Linked DNA regions of Homo sapiens. The protein of the gene in region 1 interacts with the protein of each later gene in a pairwise test. Each region holds a gene or a part of one and is shown on either strand. Other genes may lie near its edges. The genes, in order: DGCR6 and FH.

The links.
Region 2: the proteins of DGCR6 (region 1) and FH interact in binary tests that used the Homo sapiens proteins (3 or more experiments, as listed by UniProt).

Annotation. Positions count from the first base shown.
Region 1 is NC_000022.11:18,909,051-18,912,625, reverse strand, and holds the end of DGCR6 (protein DGCR6), read right to left. Parts: intron 2,647-3,575; coding exon of another isoform or gene 2,528-2,646; intron 2,455-2,527; coding exon 2,354-2,454; intron 1,739-2,353; coding exon 1,598-1,738; intron 1,087-1,597; coding exon 937-1,086; 3' UTR 538-936; downstream 1-537. UniProt on the Homo sapiens protein: May play a role in neural crest cell migration into the third and fourth pharyngeal pouches.
Region 2 is NC_000001.11:241,497,044-241,503,002, reverse strand, and holds the end of FH (fumarate hydratase, mitochondrial), read left to right. Parts: intron 1-432; coding exon 433-560; intron 561-2,412; coding exon 2,413-2,566; intron 2,567-5,032; coding exon 5,033-5,175; 3' UTR 5,176-5,400; downstream 5,401-5,959. UniProt on the Homo sapiens protein: Catalyzes the reversible stereospecific interconversion of fumarate to L-malate. Experiments in other species have demonstrated that specific isoforms of this protein act in defined pathways and favor one direction over the other.

The DNA.
Region 1 (3,575 bases):
GGACACCCCCAACCCTGACTCCACAAGGACCCAGCAGGGCCCATGGGCCCAGGCCAGCACGGAGGGGACTCATGCAGATGCAGAGGCCAAGCTCCCCAGGTGGGCCTGGCACGCCTCCCCGCAGGGCTCCTCCTCAGGCCATTCCTGCCACCCTGAGTCCTCTACCCCAGTGACCTGCATCAGGCTCCTCCTAGTGGTTCCCACAGGACACTGACCAGGCTGCGGCAGGCGCATACTTGCACTTCGGGCCTTCTCCCATGCTCTCCAGCCCCCAGCCCCACAAAGCAGGCTGGATGTGGTCCTCATGCCCTGGGGCTTGGATGGGGGCCCCTGTACAGATGGCAGTGACAGCATCCTGGGACCAGGGCTGGGGCAGGAAAGGCTGGAGGGTCCCAGTCTCCAGGCAGGGGGAGGGGTGGTGGGCTGGGCACACAGCCCAGGAAGGGGCCCCCAGGTAGAGGCCTCTGCTGCAACAGAGGTGGGGGCCCTACCAGGGCCCCGGTTATGGCAGAACCTGCAGCTATCACACAAGCCACATGCGGGCCACACTGAGGCATCTTTATTTCTCTGGGTCACACAGAGCTTGGGCCTGGGAGCCTCTTCTGCATGGGGGCTGCAGCTGCCAAGGGAGCGGCTGAGACCAGAACAAGCGCTCGAGTGGGCCCCAGTGCAGGTTGGGATGTGCCCGGTGGAGTAAGGTGTGAGAACCCCCAGCCTCACTCTCTGCCTGGCCCTGAAGCAGACAGCAGCAGGCTGGCCCAGCCTCCCCTTTATGAGACTATCCTAGGGTTTGACAGCAAGTCCCAGATGAAGGGTGACAGGCAGCTGGGGTCCACCTGGTCTCTCCTCAGCAGGGGGAACCCCCTGCGGGCAGCTGGGAAGGCAGTGGCCAAAGGTCAAGAAGATGAACTCTGCCCAGACTTCTGCTGCCTGTGGCTATGGTGGGACAGGGCTGCCTTTCTGGTCACACTGGGCAGCAGGCAACTGCCAGGGACCTCCTAGCCCCAGGGCTGCCTTCCCTGCCCAGCAGCCCCTCTGCTGCAGCTTCCGGATGAGTTCCAGCAGGTTCATCTGCAGCATCAGCTCCTGGGATACAGAGGGGCCCCATGAAGGCCAGAGTGACCCCCAGGCCCCTTTCATCCCGGCCCAAAGGTGCCAGGCAGTGAGCCCACGGGGCGACCATCCTGTGAAGCCTGGTCATGGCCTGCTACGACAGGGTGGAATCTGAGCTTCTGCCCCCAGCAGGGCCACTCGGAATCTGAGCCTCTGCCCCCAGCAGGGCCACTCGGAATCTGAGCCTCTGCACCCAGCAGGGCCACTTGGAATGGCATGCGGGAGGGGAGCAGAAGAGGGCCCTGTGGGGCACAGCAGGCCTGGGGAGGGTGGGCAGTGCCCATGGCTGGCTGGCTCACCCCCCTGTAGGGAATGGGCCTGGCCTCCATGCTGGGAATGGCACAGAAATCCTTTCCAGAGCCTCAATCCTTCCACTTCACCCCCTATACCCTGAGCCTGGCTCCCCAGGGACCAGCAGTGAAATCCCAGATGGAATGGGGCCCAGGGGCACTCGGGCTAGGACAGAGCAGGCCCAGGCACTGACCTGTGGGTTGGTGGTCACGTAGAAGCCAGCCACCCCCGCCTTCTCCAGTGTGCTCTGCTGGTCAGCCACCTTCCGGTCCAGCTCCAGGACGATCTTCTGGTCCATCGCCCGCTGCTCCTCACGGATCCGGTGCTCCACCGCCTGCCGTGGGGCCGGGGGCGGCGGGGGAGGTGAGGGCAGCTCAAACACATGCTCCTGCTGCTGTCCCCAACAGCACCAGCTCTGACACCACCAATGCATCCTCACCACACCCAGGCCTCTCCTCGGCCAAGTGAACCCCTGAAGGGGGCCCCAAGGGGCTTCCACGAATGCTTTGACTTGGGACTGCCTTGGGACCACACACACATCTCCGCAGGCACACCCTGCCCCATGACTTGTTGGTTACATGCCGGTCTCTGGTTGTCCCTGTGCTCCCGGGGAGAAGGATGGGCCCCTTCCTGGCTGGCCCCATCACCCCACCATTGCCTTTGTACCCCCCGAGGCCACCTGCTCTGCGGAGACCCCAACCCACGAGGGGCACTAATGGACTCCAGGGGAGCACTGGTGGGTTCTCACCCTCCACCCAGTCCCAGCACACCTGGCACCCTCAGCGAGGAGCCACCTGGTGGGACTCACTAGGCCTCCAGTGTCCCACTCAGGCCCAGGGTAGCCACCCACACCTGAGCCCCCCACACCCCTTCAGCTCAGCCCAGTCAGCAGAGCCAGGTGGTGCCCACAGGAGAGCTGGGCCGGCCACCCTGCCTGCGTCCCCAGTACCTCTAGTTCTCGCTGCTGAGCCGCCTGAAGCACAGGCAGGTTATGGGGCCGGCAGGCCTGCTGGGCTTCCTGGTGCTTCTGCCGCAGCGCCTGCCTGAGCACTGGGAGGGATGAGAGCCCGTCAGCAGGCGGTGGGACTCGGCAGCAGCCCTCACCCATGGGCACCTGCCTTACCAACCCAGCAGAGCAGCCAGGCCAAAGGGGTGTCTGCACTGGGGAGGACGCCAGCCTCCTCCATCCTCCCACCCCACTGTCACGGCAAGTCTCCAGGGGATTCCAGAAGGTGCGGGGCACTGAAAGAGAGTGGGGGTGGGGAAGACTGGCCAGGTGGGGCCAAAGCTGCAGCCCCAGACCCAGGGCAGCTGGAGGGGGCAGGCGGGAGGGAGGCTGCAGTCTGAGGGCTTCAGGGCCCCCGTGGCCACAGGCCATAGGACATCTACTCAAGTGTTGGAGACCACCTCAGGCAAAGGCATGGGAAAGGAGCAGGAGGAGCCGGGTCGCTGACCCTGAGCGTGGGGCCTCTGCCTACCAGGTGTGTGGTTGGCCCCTCCACCCTTGGTGCTGCCCTTCAGGGTGGGCAGCCCCCTCCCCCATTTGCAGCTCCCAGCCCCTACACAGCACCAGAGGGAGAAGGGTGAGCTGACCTGGGAGGCCCAAGTTTGGGATGAACCTGGGGTGTCATAAGCCTGTGAGGCTCTGGGCCAGGGAGTCTGTGTGGCTTTGAGGGGCTCACCCTCGGCCACCAAGCAAAGCTCCACGGTCCCTGCTAAACTGTGCACAAACACAGATGTGCAAACTCTAGTCTGAAGGGAGTGTACAGAGGAAGCGATCATGGGACATAAACCATCATGGCAAAATGGAACATGGAGCACCCCGCAGCTGGCGCCAGTGCATTAAGTGCCAAATGGCTACAGTTCCCCAGGAAGGAGGGGTCCCTGGCCACAACAAAACGTGAAATCCAACACTCTGTTCCTGGGAAGAGCCCTGATGTTGCAGCTCTTCTCTGGTGGCAAGTCTCCAGGGAACTCCACGGCCCCTGAGGCTCCCCTGCAGGTAGCCTGGCTCCAGCTGTGCCTACAGCCTTCCCCAATCTCCTGTTTCTTGGCATTCTGTACACACCTCGACGATGGTATTTACCAAAAGCCCCCCTCAAGACAGCTCCATAACACAGGGAAGCAGGGAAATGTCATCATCTTCACTCTACTGATCAAACATTGCTACA
Region 2 (5,959 bases), on another chromosome or scaffold:
TCCCATGTGTTAGTGAAGGGTCGCTTTTATAAGTGTTCTGATAGCAGCATACACTACTCTGTATTTACCCCTTATAATTGCCAGCTCTTTCTCCCTAGCCTCCAAGTTCTGCGAGGGCAGGGCCTGCATCTTTCTTATTCAGTGTTGTATATTGAGTGCCTGGCTCCATAAATATGTATAGAATGAATGAAAATCATGAAGGTGGAGAACTATATTTAATGTGTAGTTGTGGCTACTCGTTAGCCTTTGAATGATTCATTTTGTGGCTACCCATCCCACCTTCCTTGGTTGGTTTGTTTCATTAAATTACACTGATGGTTGGGCCTTGCTTTATTGTATATCTTACTCTATTTAGTGAAATTAGATTTCTTTATTCTCCTGATTATTTGCATAAATTTAGTCTTTACTCTGTCATTGGTGGTTTTCTTGAAGGCAAGGTGAACCCTACTCAGTGTGAAGCAATGACCATGGTTGCAGCCCAAGTCATGGGGAACCATGTTGCTGTCACTGTCGGAGGCAGCAATGGACATTTTGAGTTGAATGTTTTCAAGCCAATGATGGTAAGCTTTAAATCTGATTTTTAATGTTTTTTGACCAAAGGCTTATTATCTTGGTTTTGTATTTCATAAAGACTTCTAGTGATTCCACATTGGGTAGTTGGGTGACATAAGTAGCAGTTGGAAGTCAAGCATTTATTAAGTTACCAGAATAATCCTAGATAATAGAAATTAGTTGACTTTTAACCTAAGCAATTTGATGTTTTTTTTAATAGCCCGTTTAAGAAAAATAAAATGCCTCCCTACAAGCCTGTCTCCTTCTCATGCTGCTGCTTTCTTCTTCAAATTCAGTCTTCTTGGAAGGATAGCACATACTCACTTTCATTTATGCTGTAGTCACCACAGCCCAGCATGGCCCCCTCCACGCTTGAATTATTCTCCCATTCATTGGTGACTACCTCAGTCCAGCTGGCATTGCGCAGTTAGTTCTTCCCTTACTAATAGTTGATGTTGACTGTCCCTCCTTGAAACATTCTTCATCCCTGCTTTCTTGAACATTTTTTCACCAGTTCTTCTTCTGCCCCCTGTCAGACTTCGTTTCATTGTCTGGCTTTACCTTTCCACATACTTGAAAACATTGTGTCCACCCAAACCGTTCTTTTTCTTTCGTCTTTACGAAGATCGATAGATGCATCGCGCCATTTCTCATCAGTTTCCTCAGCTGCAGATAGTGGAGCTGTTGCCATAATTTAGAGTCCTTCATTTGGACAAAGTGTTATAGCTAAAGTAGAGTAGGGGCTTACTTTCTCTTGGAATCTCTTCTAAATTCTAATTTTAATTTTATAAGAATATGCAAATGACAAATATGGAGTATATTTAATATATTCACTAAATATTTATTGAGTACCATTTTCTATCAGGCACTGTACTGGATGCATAATAGAGATAGAGCAATGAAAAGACAGATTTCTTGCTCTCATGGAATGTATATCCTAGTGGTAAATAAAAACACAGGCCAGAGCAGAACTCAGACTGTTAAAATTTTGCTCTCAGGTCAGATTCCAAACAGTTAACACGAGATACCCAGCATTTATAGGTGCATAACAATAAATGCCTTGTTAATCTTTTTAAAATTTTATTTTTAATGTAAAATAAAGATAATCAATATTTGCCTTATTACAAGGTCATTAGTAGCAAATTAAAACTTAGATTATATGTCTTAGAGTCCATTGTTGGAAGTCTAGTTTTCAGACCGGAGTTTTAGACCAGAGGATATTAGGATTTGGATATATCTTAATAAATATTGGAAATGTTGCCAACAAAGCCAAAACAAACTAATTGATTTTATACTGTTTTTTAATATTATATGAAAAGTTATTTTACAGTGACTGGAGTATTCGTTAAAGCATAGAAAACCTAGAAATTTGGTGATCATTAGATTTTGCCCTGACTTTACTAATTGCCTCACACTCATACTGAACTTTCGAACCTCTGCATCTTTGCTCCTCTTCCTTCTGCGTGGAAGATTCTTTTTCCTTCTCTGGCCAAGTCCTCTCCATAAAATAGGATTTCACCAGTTCCGACAACTGGAGTTAATTTCTCTTTCTCTATGGTCTCTAACACTTCAGACCTCTGTTTTAAATACTTGCTATGGGCTATTTTGTGTTTTAGTCATTTGTATTTATGTCTTTTTCACCTTTTTTAGATTTCTGTGCCTTCAAATGTTCATGCTTTCTTTCACATTTGTTTCCTTGGTTATAGTGCCTTAAAATTTGTAGAAGATCTATATGTTTATTGAATTGTATATTTACTGTCAACCAGAAAATAATATGTTATTGGACAAAAAACATGTTGCCTTAGTAATGTCTCTCTCTCTCTCTCTCTCTCTCTCTCTCTCTCTCTCACTCACTCAAAGATTAAAAATGTGTTACACTCAGCCAGGCTGCTGGGGGATGCTTCAGTTTCCTTTACAGAAAACTGCGTGGTGGGAATCCAGGCCAATACAGAAAGGATCAACAAGCTGATGAATGAGTCTCTAATGTTGGTGACAGCTCTCAATCCTCATATAGGTAAGTGTTTAAGGAATAATAATATCATTTTGAATGCAAAATTAAAAAGCTAAACCATTTTTAAGAGACAAGTGGATCAGTGTTTGAGAACAGCAAATTTCTTTTGAATATGGTTTTAGTAAAATCTCAAAATATTTGAAATTGTGTGGAAAGGTACTATATAACTTGTATGGTGTCATAGTTCTTTCAAAACTAGATCTATTATGCCTCATTTTATTTGAAATGTATCGAGAAGTAGTAGTTCAAACTTATTTTGATTTTAATGGAATTCAGACGCCAAATATTCTATGCAGACCATTGGGGAAGGTTATTTGTAAGACCTTCAGTGGGTAATGTCACTAGGTGGCACTGCTGATTAGCAACATTGAATGAACTCATTTTTCTACCTTCCCTAGATCTCTACAATGCTTTAATTTTGTTGTTTTATTCAATTCAGAAATGGAAAGTTACAATTAAAAGAAAAAGTTTATGTATTCATTGCTTATAGTGAAAGGGAGGAAGGAAAATGCAAATATTTTGTCTAAAACCATGCTATTGTATTATAAGTCTTTTTTGGAACTGTAAATATTTCATTATGTAGAATCAAACATACAGATTTGGGTAGTAGACTGACCATAGAGATCTCCATTAAATAAACTGTTTACACTTTTGTAGATTTTGAGGCATTATGTTGCATTATATTATGATGTGTTAAAAGCCTTTTACCCATTCTTCCTTTCTGCTAAGCAGAGGTTAATATATTTTCTGCCTTTCTGTTATAGAACAAGTTATGATTCACTTATTTGGCATAATATGGCTACTGCTTCTTCTATAATCTTGAACTTTCAAGGCAAATTTTATATTCCTGGTTTCACATCAAGCTATAATTACAGTTTTTTAAAATTAGAGCTCATTTGACTCTTTTAGGTAGCTCTGAGCCCAGTATGATATCAGTTTTTTGGTGTGGCATTGAGATTGGTAATAATGTTTGATCCATTTAAAATTATGGTACATCAACTACATCTGGAAAAACACAAAGGGGAACCCAGAGGCTCGTGTGAGCAGTTTTCATCAGATCTTTACTTCAGAATGTGTTACCAAAACTTTAAATTAGAGGTGTCTCCTAAAGTTGAATGATTGGCAAATCTTTATTGGAATCAACTTATTGTGACATAAAAAGAATTGTTAGAGGCCATATGAGAATGAGATGGGTCAACACCACCTCACTAGTTGACTTGGTGTGAGCCTTACAACCCTCTGAATCATGGGTTCCCTATATTCTCATTATGTACCAGGCTGGTTGCCAATAGTGTCTTGTTGGACTTGACAGCTGAAATGCTTAGACTTTAAAGCCATTATTAAAATAAAAGTACTGGATATATATTGATCTCAAGAGTTTAACATGCAAATTCTTTCTCAAAGCATTTCTGCTTTAAGAAAGATGCCCTTTTCAGTAAATGGCATCAATAAATGCCCTTTCAGATCAATAAATGCCCTTTTCAACATATTTAGCATTCACAAATTCAGTTAAGTAATAAAAGTAACTATGCCCATGCTTTCTTTTATAGCTGATTAATAATTGCATATTGACACATGCCATCTTATTGATGATGTATACTGCCTCAGCAAGCTTCTTCCTTTTGGTCATATTTCTCTGATCTTGTTTTTTTTCTCCCGCATTGGTTTCATTTTCATTCCTGCTTTTTCTTCTTGACATATATATATATATATATATATATATATATATATATATATATATATATGTTAAGACAGCTTGCAGAACTGCCCTGCCCCCACTTTTATTAATTTGAAAAGCAAATAACTCTGAAGTAAACAGTATGCCTGTGATCTTTTGTGCAGTCTGTATTTCTGCCCAGACTCCCTATTTGTGTCCCTGTAATGTCTGGGAGGAGGCCAGGGTATAGAAGCCATTGCAGTGGAGAGCCACATAGAGAAGAGCCATTGGAAGCAGCTCTGGAGGCACCCCTCCCCAGGCCCTGCCTGCGCCTGCCTCACTGCGAGGACTTCTCCCCTCTCAGAGCCACTCACCACAGTTGCCAGACGTGCAGTGCTTTATTTTCTGCTGGACTGGAGCATTTAGCTTGTTAATGTTTCTTTAGAAAGATAATTGTTTCTAGTTAAACATGTTGTTTGAAAAATATACCCAGATGTATATTTTTATGTCGTGGTGCTATAATTTCTACTTTTTTCCCCTTCAAAATATCTAAGTTACTGGAAAATTTCAACTTAGGAACAAATCTGTTGGAGAAAGTGAGGTATGTTTAAGTGTTTATTTCTTAAGGAAAGTAAATGTTCTACATAAAAAATGATTATTGAGATAATCACTGTTAACTAATTTAAAAACAAAAAATGTCATTTAAGAGGCCCATATAGCATCAATATCAAGTAAACAATTATGTCACCTTTTGCTTTAGGAAACCAAATATCACTGCTAACCCATATGTCGTCTTTTTATTTTTTCTTCAGGGTATGACAAGGCAGCAAAGATTGCTAAGACAGCACACAAAAATGGATCAACCTTAAAGGAAACTGCTATCGAACTTGGCTATCTCACAGCAGAGCAGTTTGACGAATGGGTAAAACCTAAGGACATGCTGGGTCCAAAGTGATTTACATAAATTTATAATGAAAATAAACATGTATAAAATTTAAAAAAACAGACTCCCATTTCTTAAAAACGGATAAGTTTGAAAGGAAACTGCTATTGAACTTAAGCATCTCTAGCAGAGCAATTTGATCAGTATATAAAACCCTAGGATGTGCTAGGTCTAAGATGGATTAAACAAGTATAAAATAAAATACATTTATAAAATAAAAAGGAAAACAGACTTAAATTTTCTCCTATGTTAATTGACTTGTATTATAGTTGAATCTATGATATTTGTGCATGTTGTCTTTGTGACTTCATAAGTTACCAATTTCTAAAGGGTTTTAATTTTGGAGGTTATTGGTGGTTTAAAAAATTGCCCGATTATATCTTATTATCTCATTCCCAAACTATGTCCTTAGCCATCTTTTATTTTCCTTTGATTTGGAGACACAGTGACCAAGCCCTTTTGAGTGGGGATGTGTATATGTGTGTGTGTGTGTGCACGCACGTGTGTGTGTGTGATAGAATAGGTTAAGAAAATTGGGACATACATATCCTGTGTGTTAAACACACACCTATCCCTCCAACCTTGTTTCTGTTACCACAGAGGGACCAGATCAAGGCCAGGCATGGTGGGTCAGGGACACCGACTTTAGGAGACTGCGCTTTGGGAAACTGAGGCAGAAAGATCATTTGAGCCTAGGAGTTTGAGACCAGCCTGGGCAGCATAATGAGATCCCTATCTCTACAAAAAATAAAACAAAAATTAGGCAGGCTTGGTAGTGTGTGCCTGTAATCCCAGC